2 separate regions of the Homo sapiens genome follow, and region 2 is reported to be linked to region 1. The links are microRNA targets in miRTarBase. Many come from high-throughput screens and were not tested one by one. Region 1 holds a microRNA gene; the other region holds the end of a gene's coding sequence.
Evidence for each region. The annotated mature microRNA hsa-miR-5571-5p reads CAAUUCUCAAAGGAGCCUCCC and lies in region 1 at 2,446-2,466, shown strand. An mRNA with a match to its seed (bases 2 to 7 or 8) in the 3' UTR can be bound and repressed. Matches are read on the target gene's strand: a 7mer-m8 pairs with bases 2 to 8, a 7mer-A1 pairs with bases 2 to 7 and ends in A, and an 8mer does both.

Region 1 (5,167 bases):
AGATAAATAATACTTAATGCAATATTTTCAAAAATCAAAATTAATGCCCAACAAACCCACAATGAACAAAATTTCAGGATCTGACTCACTCACCTCAGTGGTTTTGTTCTTGGTCCTACCCACAGTCCCACAGGTGAGTGAGTACCCACAGGGATGCAAAACCAGAGTCAGGCCCCTGCACCGCCTTCTGCCCGGCCACCAGAGCCCTCCCCTGGGTCTTGGCCTTTCTCTTCTGAAGAGCTCCAGCCAGTTCCTCCTCAGGCTTCCTCTACTGCTGGTCTCTTCTGCCCCCTACTGGATTCTCCCCTTACAGCTGCACTCCAGGCAGCTGGTGGAGGTTAAAGAACAGAAACCTCCCAAAACTCCACCCTCCAGTTCCAGGCTGGCTCCACCTCATGTCCAAAAAGGCTGGTCCTCCAGGTCTTTGATTGCTATTAGTAAGTCCCAAGACACAGTCTTTACACCAAGTCGCTGTGTGCCTTGGGCAAGAAACTCTCCCTCTCTGAGACTGTGTTTCCACACTGGTAGAAGTAGCTAGAAGACCTCCCTGCCAGGTTGGCAAGTCCACTCTGTGACATCTACAAAGGGAGCAGGGATCTCTTCCATTTCCTGGAGGAGAGCTGGGGTGGAGGCTGCAACCCAGGATCACCAGAGGAGCTGGGGTCTTTGGGGTTCCTGAGGACTCCTCAGAGGGGGATCAGGAGCTGCAGAGCCAGCTTCTAACTCTGGGGACTCAGAGATCCAGAACCTTTGTCATATCCCCAGCCAATACTTTGTCATCCTGTGCCTCAGACTCCCCCAGATCCCAAGAGTGAGAAGCTCAAGATGAGACAAGAAAGACCAGCCAGCTTGAATTTAGGGATGGTGGGGAGTGGGGAGCTGGGGACCCCTGGACCTGGGGGAGAGGAGTCTGCAGTGCCTGCAGGTGGAGTTTCTGGGACCTGGGGGATGGAGACTGGGCAGGGGACTGACCAGCAGAAGGCCAAGGTGGGGGATACCCTCAGACATGGAGCAGGGCAGAAGCAACTGGATGGGGTACATCCCTCTGCTTTGGGAGAGAAGGGCCAGGGCGGGACCCAGAGAGCTCTGCAGAGGCACCACAGACCCTCAGCAGGGGGTCTGCCAAACAGGACAGCTGGACTTGGCTGCTTCTGCCCAGGCCTGGATCCAGCCCTTGCACATCTCAGGGCAGGGGATAGGCCTGGGTGGCCAGAGCTGCAGCTGCACCTGCTGGGGAGGCCTAGTCCAGTCCTCCAGGGTCCCCAGACAGACTCGGATTTCCGACTGCAGCCACCATGGAAGGATGTGGTCTGCGGTGACGATGTCTATCCAGAGGCCATGGCAGGTGCAAGGGTGGGGGTAGGGGCAGCAGCTGGGGATGCTACATTTAGGGACAGCCCCTTTTTATCCCCAAGACCTGGGACTGTCCCTGAAAGGAACCACAGCTTCTGGGTCCTGAGCAGTGGGTGAGTGTCATACCCACAGAGGGGCTGGAAGGGAGCAGCTTCAGCCTAGACTCCCAGGGCAGACCCTGCCCCAGCCCCGAATATCCAAGGAGCCCAAGATCAGAGGCAGGAATAGGCCAAGCTCCCCAGTGGAGAAGCTGTGCTGGACCAGGGGTTTCCCAGGGCCCTCCCTTGTGCCCTGAATGATGTCTGTTAGGGCACCTACACCCTGTTACTGCTCAGTGCCTTGCCTATTTTGAAGGACAGGGATGTGTGGTGATTATTTGTATAATCCAGCCCCCAGCACCTGGTCCTCAAAAGTTACCCAAGCAATGTGTATAAAGATCCAGCCTGGAGATCTTTGAAAACCGATTCGATGAGTCGAACCATTAAGTCATGATCACCATCCTCAACTTCATCTCTTTCTTCCTCCTCCTCCTCATTATCATCACCTTCAAGAACTGTTAAGAGTCTGAGACTTCATCCTATTTGCAGACTAAAAAGTAAGCCTGCCACAGTGCCATGGATGCTGGCAGAAGATACAAGACTCCTGGGTCAGAGACAACGAATAATCTGTTTTTCACAGCAATAGCAGTTGCCAAGGTATCAGCATTGTCTTGCACCAGTTCCACAAGGTGATGCAAAGAGGGCCAGGTGACATCTGCATGCCAGAGCTCAGGGATCCCAAATATTTCATACTTGACAGTAAGCATATATCTGTGTTTTGCTCCAAAGAGAGGCATTCTCTGTACCTTCCGAGGTTGTTCACTCCACAAACACTCTTGAAAAGATAATCCACAATCAGTGCCTTTGCCCGAGAGACATGCAGAAATGCAGAGATCCATAGTAGACCACTGTCTCCCAACAACCATCAACTTTATCAATGAAATGAAGTCTCAGGCTATTTGTCTGTTACCATAGCCCACAAAAATGTCTGGCTTGATTGTCACCAAATGTATCAAGGAAGTTAAGGAGTATCTGACACAAAATGTGAACCAAGCAATTCTCAAAGGAGCCTCCCAGGAAATTCACTTTAGGAAGTCCTAGGAGGCTCCTCTGAGAGTTGCTAAAACAAAACATTGAGAGTCCTAGAGGGCTGCAGATCTGAACTTGAGCAGATATTTTTAAAGATTTTGTGGCAGAAAAAGAAACTGGAAAGCAAGAGGGCAGACCCTCATTGCAGTTCTGTAATGTAAGGGGGCAGAGCAGGGGCCTTTCTCACCAGAGTATGGGGTCCTGAAGATCTCCTCAAACATTTTTATACTAGGCTCTCAGGGCAACAGAAAAGATGGGAGCGATGAATGGGGCGTAAAGGAGTGCAAATGACACAAGGGGTCACATGAAGCAAAAGAGGTTTATTCAACCAGATTTAGTCCATGTTTAATTGAGCCACTCCTTTGTGCCAAGCTCTGGGTTTTCCCATGCACCAAGCAGTGTGTTACCACCTAGACCCAGAGAGCCATGTCATCATCAGCAAAGCACGCCCTAGTGTCATGCAAGGACCAGGCCTCAGATTCCGACTCCAGACCTACTGCCTCTTGGCCCTGTGACATTAAAAGAGTAGGGAATCAGCCTGAGCAGCATTTCCTCATCTTCAAATGTGGAGGACAGTAGATGATCTTAGCTCCCAGGATTAGTGCTTGTAAAGCAATAATAATGTAATGCATTATTATTGTATTATGCATCATATTCCCATATTATAGTCAAAAAGGACCCCAACTTAAAGCACCTGCCAGCCCTCTCCTCCTCCACCACTGCCGAATGGAGCCAGGCACGAGTATTCCAGGTGGACAGACGAATAGAAATACAGGGGACGAGCCCCTTCCTAGATCCTAGCGCAGCTTGCTCCCTACTTAAGGAATGATATTGGACCCTGCATTCATCTTCTCTGGATGGTAATTTTCTCACCTGTAAAACAGAGACACTGGCCCCAAGGACACCCCACAAGTAGTTGTGAATCCCAAAGTAAGAGAAGAACAAAAAAAGAACCAGAATTTATTCAACACCCACTGAGTGCTTAGCAAACACATGGTTTCTTTAACTCTCATAAGCTTCATGCTGCAGAGGAACTCTCCCCATTTTACAGATAAGGAAACTGAGGCCCAGAGGTAACCTAGGTCTAGATAGACTCCACATTTATGACTTCACCACTCTTCCTTGCCTGAAGGATATAGAATCACTCCCTGCAGGGCTCTTGCCTGACTCAGGAAAGGGCCACAGGATAGCCAGCCAGGCTTAACCAACCCAGCCAAGAAAGGGCTGGTCCCAACTGGCTGGAGTGCAGTGTACAGGCACCCAGCCTGGAAGACTGATCAGAAAAGAAGCCACAGCTCCAGCCCCAGCCCCAACCCCCTGAGCTCAAGCCCTTGGGGACTCCTGCTGGGCAGCTCTCTAGGCCCTAGGGAGATGCTCCACAGACCCAGGCTGCCCTTTGGGAAGTGGGGAAGACAAGTGGGTCAGGTGTGCACCACCCAGGGGCGGGGCCAGGCAGCCGGCTGTGGTGGGAGGCAGTTGAGCCCTGGATTGTGACCGCTTCAGGGCAGTTGGTAGATGCCCCTCTGGGAGAGATCCCCAGGGGTGACAGCCATGGACCCTGGAAGGGCCTGGGCTAGGGACAGGGACCAGAGCCAGTCCAGGGAGAGGACAGAGCCAATGGACTGGGGTGTACTGTAACAGCCCTGCTGGCGAGAGGGACCAGGGCACCGTCCTCCAGGGAGCCCATGCTGCAAGTCGGGCCAGAGGTGCCCCTGAACCTGAAGGCCAATGAGACCCAAGACAGGCCAAGTGGGTTGTGAGACCCCTGAGGAGCTGGGCCCTGGTCCCAGGCAGCGCTGGCCCCTGCTGCTGCTGGGTCTGGCCATGGTCGCCCATGGCCTGCTGCGCCCAATGGTTGCACCGCAAAGCGGGGACCCAGACCCTGGAGCCTCAGTTGGAAGCAGCCGATCCAGCCTGCGGAGCCTGTGGGGCAGGTAAGGGGCAAGAGATTCCAGGGGATGTGGGGGTCCTGCAGCAGAGCTGGGAAAGGGTGACCAAGGGGAGACAAGCCAGAGGAGTGAGGAGGAAGGTTAACCCCTAAGAGGGGCCTGGGCTGACACTGGCTTTAGTAATGGGTTGATATTTTGTCCATCACAGATTTGTTTGAATTACTGTTTTTAATATCATATTACGATATTATTTTTCTTGATTTCTGAGTTTTCTGGCGCCACTTAAATTTTCACCAGGGTCAGTGCCTCAATCACCTAGTCCTAGTCCTCTGGGTAGGGAAGGAACAGAGGCAGGGACAGGACATCCACAGGGGGTGGTGGCCACTGTCCCCACAGGGTGCCCAGGCCTGTTCCTCCCCCTCCTCCTCTCTGCCCATGTGCCTCCTGCCCAGTGAGGGCAGGGGCCACTCCCTGGAGAAGGCAGCAAGGGCTTGGTTTGGTCTCCCCCAAGGCTGTCTGTTCACCAACTTGCACATAAATGCTTACTGGGGCCAGGCTCAAGGACACAGGGAGGGTGGGATGAACCGAGGGGAGCTGTCCAGTCATTGGAACAGGCCCACGGCCCATGTTTGGAGCAATAAAGGGAGAGGGGATCTCCCTCTGGGATGATGCCCAGGCTGGTCTCACAGATCGAGGGGCACTGGCTGGTGATGGGTGCCCCCAAAAGACAGAGCAGCGTCAGAGGAGAGGAGAGCACAGGATGAGGCTGGGAGCTCCTGGGTGACTGGGAAGGGGAGG
Region 2 (5,000 bases), not on the chromosome of region 1:
CCTCAGTTCCATTCTTACCTCCCACCCCCTACTGTACCCTGTTCCCGGTCTCTCGTGATGAGAGCTCAGGGATGTGACATTTCACATTACCTAAAACATTTCACTATAAAAACGTGAGCAACAGATATACTCACCCCTCCCTAAGCCTGCCCATAGGCACCAGGCTTTGATTAGCCCAAGAGTGAAAATGATAGATCCCTAGGCAAGGTAAAGATAAAGTGCCCAGCACCAGGTCCCAGGGGTCATTCGGTGCCCCAGACAGAGGCAGTGCAAAAGTCTGTGTCTCAGATAAGCAGATGGGCCAGCTGCCTAAGGGACAACCTTAATGAAATCTCTGCTGATTGAATACTTCTGTCCACAGGGAGCCCCCAGAGGTTTAGAAAATACCACCCTGATGTCATTAATAGCTACTGCCCTGAGAAGCTATTTCTAGTTCTTAGATGGCTCTCACCCCCATCATTTACAGTCTGCAGTGATTCTCAAACTGTAATGGGCAAAGCAGCCTCCCAGAGATCTTGCTGAAATGCATCTTCTGATTTAGTGGGTCTGGGCTGGGGCCAGCAGCCTTGCATGTCCTCATGTGCTGCTGGTGTTACTGAAGTGTGGACCACACCTGAGGGGCAGGCTGGGCAGAATTTCCTCCGAGCAGAGCTGTCTCGCCACCTCCCTCAATGATGCTTCTGTTTCTTTGTGCCACAGCTGGATACTGGCAAGACCTTCCAGGCTGTCATGAGGTTTGACACTGATGTGGAGCTCACTTATTTCCTCAACGGGGGCATCCTCAACTACATGATCCGCAAGATGGCCAAGTAGGAGACGTGCACTTGGTGCTGCGCCCAGGGAGGAAGCCGCACCACCAGCCAGCGCAGGCCCTGGTGGAGAGGCCTCCCTGGCTGCCTCTGGGAGGGGTGCTGCCTTGTAGATGGAGCAAGTGAGCACTGAGGGTCTGGTGCCAATCCTGTAGGCACAAAACCAGAAGTTTCTACATTCTCTATTTTTGTTAATCATCTTCTCTTTTTCCAGAATTTGGAAGCTAGAATGGTGGGAATGTCAGTAGTGCCAGAAAGAGAGAACCAAGCTTGTCTTTAAAGTTACTGATCACAGGACGTTGCTTTTTCACTGTTTCCTATTAATCTTCAGCTGAACACAAGCAAACCTTCTCAGGAGGTGTCTCCTACCCTCTTATTGTTCCTCTTACGCTCTGCTCAATGAAACCTTCCTCTTGAGGGTCATTTTCCTTTCTGTATTAATTATACCAGTGTTAAGTGACATAGATAAGAACTTTGCACACTTCAAATCAGAGCAGTGATTCTCTCTTCTCTCCCCTTTTCCTTCAGAGTGAATCATCCAGACTCCTCATGGATAGGTCGGGTGTTAAAGTTGTTTTGATTATGTACCTTTTGATAGATCCACATAAAAAGAAATGTGAAGTTTTCTTTTACTATCTTTTCATTTATCAAGCAGAGACCTTTGTTGGGAGGCGGTTTGGGAGAACACATTTCTAATTTGAATGAAATGAAATCTATTTTCAGTGAAAACTTGTTGACTTTGAGTTTTGCTGTGTTTGTGGCTAGAGTTTTGGGATATTTAGTACAGAGTGAATCTCACACCATATCATTGGGAAGCCTGAATAACCTTCATATTCTCCCATTTTTACAACTCTATCAGAACTGTACGGGTATAACGGAAATGTTTAGGAACCATTATGCTCGCTCTTCCCTGTTTGGGAGCAGACAAGAAGGAAGAGTAGCCTGGTGGCAGTGGCAACGATATAAGTACATAAGGAAAAGCAGATAAACTTCAGGACACTAAAAACCAATTATCTGCTCATTTTTACCCCTGTAGTCATTTCTGGGCATGCCTTAGTTTGCTTGGGTTGCTATAATGTAATGCCATAGACTGGCTGAAAGAACAGAAATGTATTTTCTCACAGTTATGGAGGCTGGAATTCTGAGATCAAAGTTGAAGCCACTTCATTTTCTGGTGAGGACACTCTTCCTGGTTTACAGATGGCCACCTTCTTGCTTGTTCTCACATGGCATTTCTTTGGTATGTGCCTGGTGGGGGAGAGAGAAAATAGGCTCTCATGTCTCTTCTTACAGCAACACTAATTGTATTGGATCAGGGTCCCACTCTTATGGAGACCCAGGAAAGCTGGTGGTATAACAACTTGGTTCAAGTCCAAATGCCTAAGAACCTGGGGAGGGGCATGGGGAATGCTGGTATAAGTCCCAGAGTCTGAATGCCCAGGAACAAGCAGGAGCTGTGATGTCCAAGGACAGGAGGGCAGGATCTTTGTAATGAATTTTTAATGTCAACCTTAGCACTCAGGGGATATGGCCTGGTCATCAGAACATCTGGAATCTAATCCTCTTTCTACTTCTCACCAGATGAGGGATCAAGACAGGTTATTTAGCATCCCTGCACTTGCGGTCCTGGGGATCTTATTTATATTCATTTAAAAAATAAATTACAAACAAACAGCCAGGCGCAGTGGCTCATGCCTATAATTCCATCACTTTGGGAGGCCGAGGTGGGTAGATCACCTGAGGTCAGGAGTTCTAGACCAGCCTGGCCAACATGGTGAAACCCCGTCTCTACTAAAAATACAAAAAATTAGCCAGGTGTGGTATTGTGTGCCTGTAATCCCAGCTACACAGGAGGCTGAGGCAGGAGAATTGCTTAAACCCGGGATGCAGAGGCTGCAGTGAGCCGAGATCGTGCCATTGCACGCCCGCCTGGGCTACAAGAGCAAAGCTCCGTCTCAAAAAAAAAAAAAAATTACAAACAAACAGAACTCCATTGTACAAAAAAACCTGTGATCCTCAAGTTAAGATCAGTCCTAGAATAAAAACACTAAGAATGGCTGAGAAAACAGACCTCCACCCTCTCAGCTCTCCATTACTGAGCAGCTGGGGAGCTGTCTCGCTCCCCGCATTCAGTGGCTCCTGTGGTCTGTATTTTTGTATCCTCCCCAAAATTCAGGTGGTGAAACCTTAACCCCCCAGGTAATGGTAATAGAAGCTGGGGCCTTTGGAAGGTGATTAGATCATGAGGGTAGTGCCTTTTAAAAGAGACTCAAGATAAGATAGAGACCCCCTCATTTCTTCTGCCATGGGAGAACACAGCAAGAAGTCACCATCCGTGAACCAGAAAGTGGGTTCTCACCAGATACTGAATCTGCCAGTGCCTTGAACCTAGACTTTCCAGCCAGAACTGTGAGAAATTTCTATTGTTTATAAGCCACCCAGTTGATATTTAGTTACAGCAGCCCAACCAAGACTGTGGTTATGAGGAAACAAACACATTATTGTGGCTAGACTAATGGAATTGGGTCCCTTACCTCCAAGTACACCCTCTGTCCTTTTCGGTAAAAATATCTTCGCCAGGCACGGTGTCTCATGCCTATGATCCCAACACTTTGGGAGGCCGAGGCTGGAGGGTTGCTTGAGCCCAGAAGTTTGAGACCAGCCTGGGCAACACTCTACAAAAAAAAAAATAAATAAATAAATAAATAAAATAAATCAGCCAGGTGTGCACCTGTGGTCCCAGCTGTTCAGGAGGCTGAGGTGGGAGGATCACTTGAGCCTGGGAGGTCGTGGCTATGATTGCTCCACTGCACTCCAGCCTGGGCAATAGAGTGAGACCCTATCAATCAATCACCACCCCCCCCCCCCCCAAAAAAAAAAGTATCTTGGCCAGTGTCTCAACCTTGCCCACTAACAAGCCTAAATAAACCAACTTCTTTTACCTGGTTCTTTAAGGGCTGCTCGTCTTACTATCCAAATTAAAAATCTGCTGTTCTCCCTCCCATATTCTTTGCGAATGAAGATTCCCCTGTTTGTTTGGATAGTTTTCCAAATTCATTACTGCATTCCTGGCATCCGCAGCAAGCTAAGAGTTAGTTAATATTTTTAATATAGCAAATAAGGATGAGGGATGCCCTTCATGTGTATTTACACACCAGATTTTTATGGTACATAGGGAGTAATCTAGGGAAAAGATATATTAGGCATGAATCTTAGCTGTGGTAGAAGCACAGCTCAAATTAGCTTAAGGAAAAAAAAAAAAAAGCTGGCTCATAGAACTTGAGGACAGTGGTGGCCATGACTATGGGCTTGATTGGATCTAGTGACTCAAGCTCCCTTCCATTTGCCCCTCCAACCACCCCCCCATCCCTCCACCAATCATACCTTCTGTTGGCCTCTGCAGTAGAGTGGCCTCTTCTGGGCCCTTCCACATGCCAGGGGATATGGCCACCAGCAGTTCTGGGGAAACCATTAGTAATTTGTGATCGTAGAGATTTGTCTCCCAGTATTCCCTAGGGCAAAAATATTGGGAGTTCCTAGTCACCTAAATGAAGAACCTTATTTTTAGCAGTTTCCCTTTCAGGGCTCTAACAGGACTGTGGAGTAATGTACGGGGTTATGTAGGAGCAATGCAGAGCCACTTTTGAAAAACAGTAGCCAAGGTTCTACTGGCTGCCTTCTTAGGACATTATTAAATATCATAAACACAAGTGGAATTTAACACCCAGCCAGTTTGTGTTCAACCAGACAGCGTCATTATGAACAAAGATTATATAACGATAGCTGATATTAAGTAAGTTTTAAAAGTTGACATCCCAAGAGTGAAGCCTACTTATTCAGTACAGATTTGTTGAATGAAATTCGTAGTTTTATTTTACGGCATAATGAAACAGAGTTCCAGACATGTACCTGCCAAATTTGGTTCTGGTTGTCTTATCGTATGCAGGCTGGATACCTGCTACTGTGCTTCTACAGGATGTTAACAGTGTCCCCTGAGTAAAACAGTTCCACGGTCAGTACATTTGGGAACCACTGAGTTAAATGGGTTTTATCACTGCAGAACAGACACAAGAACAATGTGTGCTGTAAATCACTGTTTGCAGGGAAGGTGGCAGCAAATGGCACAGAAACCCACCTGACCACAGACTGCTTTCTTCTGGGCGTTCACGCACTGTGCTCCACAGGATACTC

Region 2: miRTarBase lists ACO1 as a target of hsa-miR-5571-5p. Seed matches in the 3' UTR shown: 7mer-m8 at 2,674-2,680.

The regions. Positions count from the first base shown.
Region 1 is chr22:22,883,846-22,889,012 of GRCh38, forward strand. It overlaps MIR5571 (microRNA 5571), which reads left to right and starts at 2,422; the gene lies at 2,422-2,534. It overlaps IGLL5 (immunoglobulin lambda like polypeptide 5), which reads left to right and starts at 3,971. Exons shown (of 3, transcript NM_001178126.2): 1 at 3,971-4,414. The coding sequence starts at 4,209. It overlaps LOC105372948 (a long non-coding RNA gene), which reads right to left and starts at 754. Exons shown (of 4, transcript XR_938047.2): 1 at 94-754. It also overlaps IGL.
Region 2 is chr9:32,449,299-32,454,298 of GRCh38, forward strand. ACO1 (aconitase 1) reads left to right here. Exons shown (of 21, transcript NM_002197.3): 21 at 700-5,000. The coding sequence ends at 813. Among named protein-coding and RNA genes, the nearest start is that of ACO1, 67 kb to the left of the region's middle.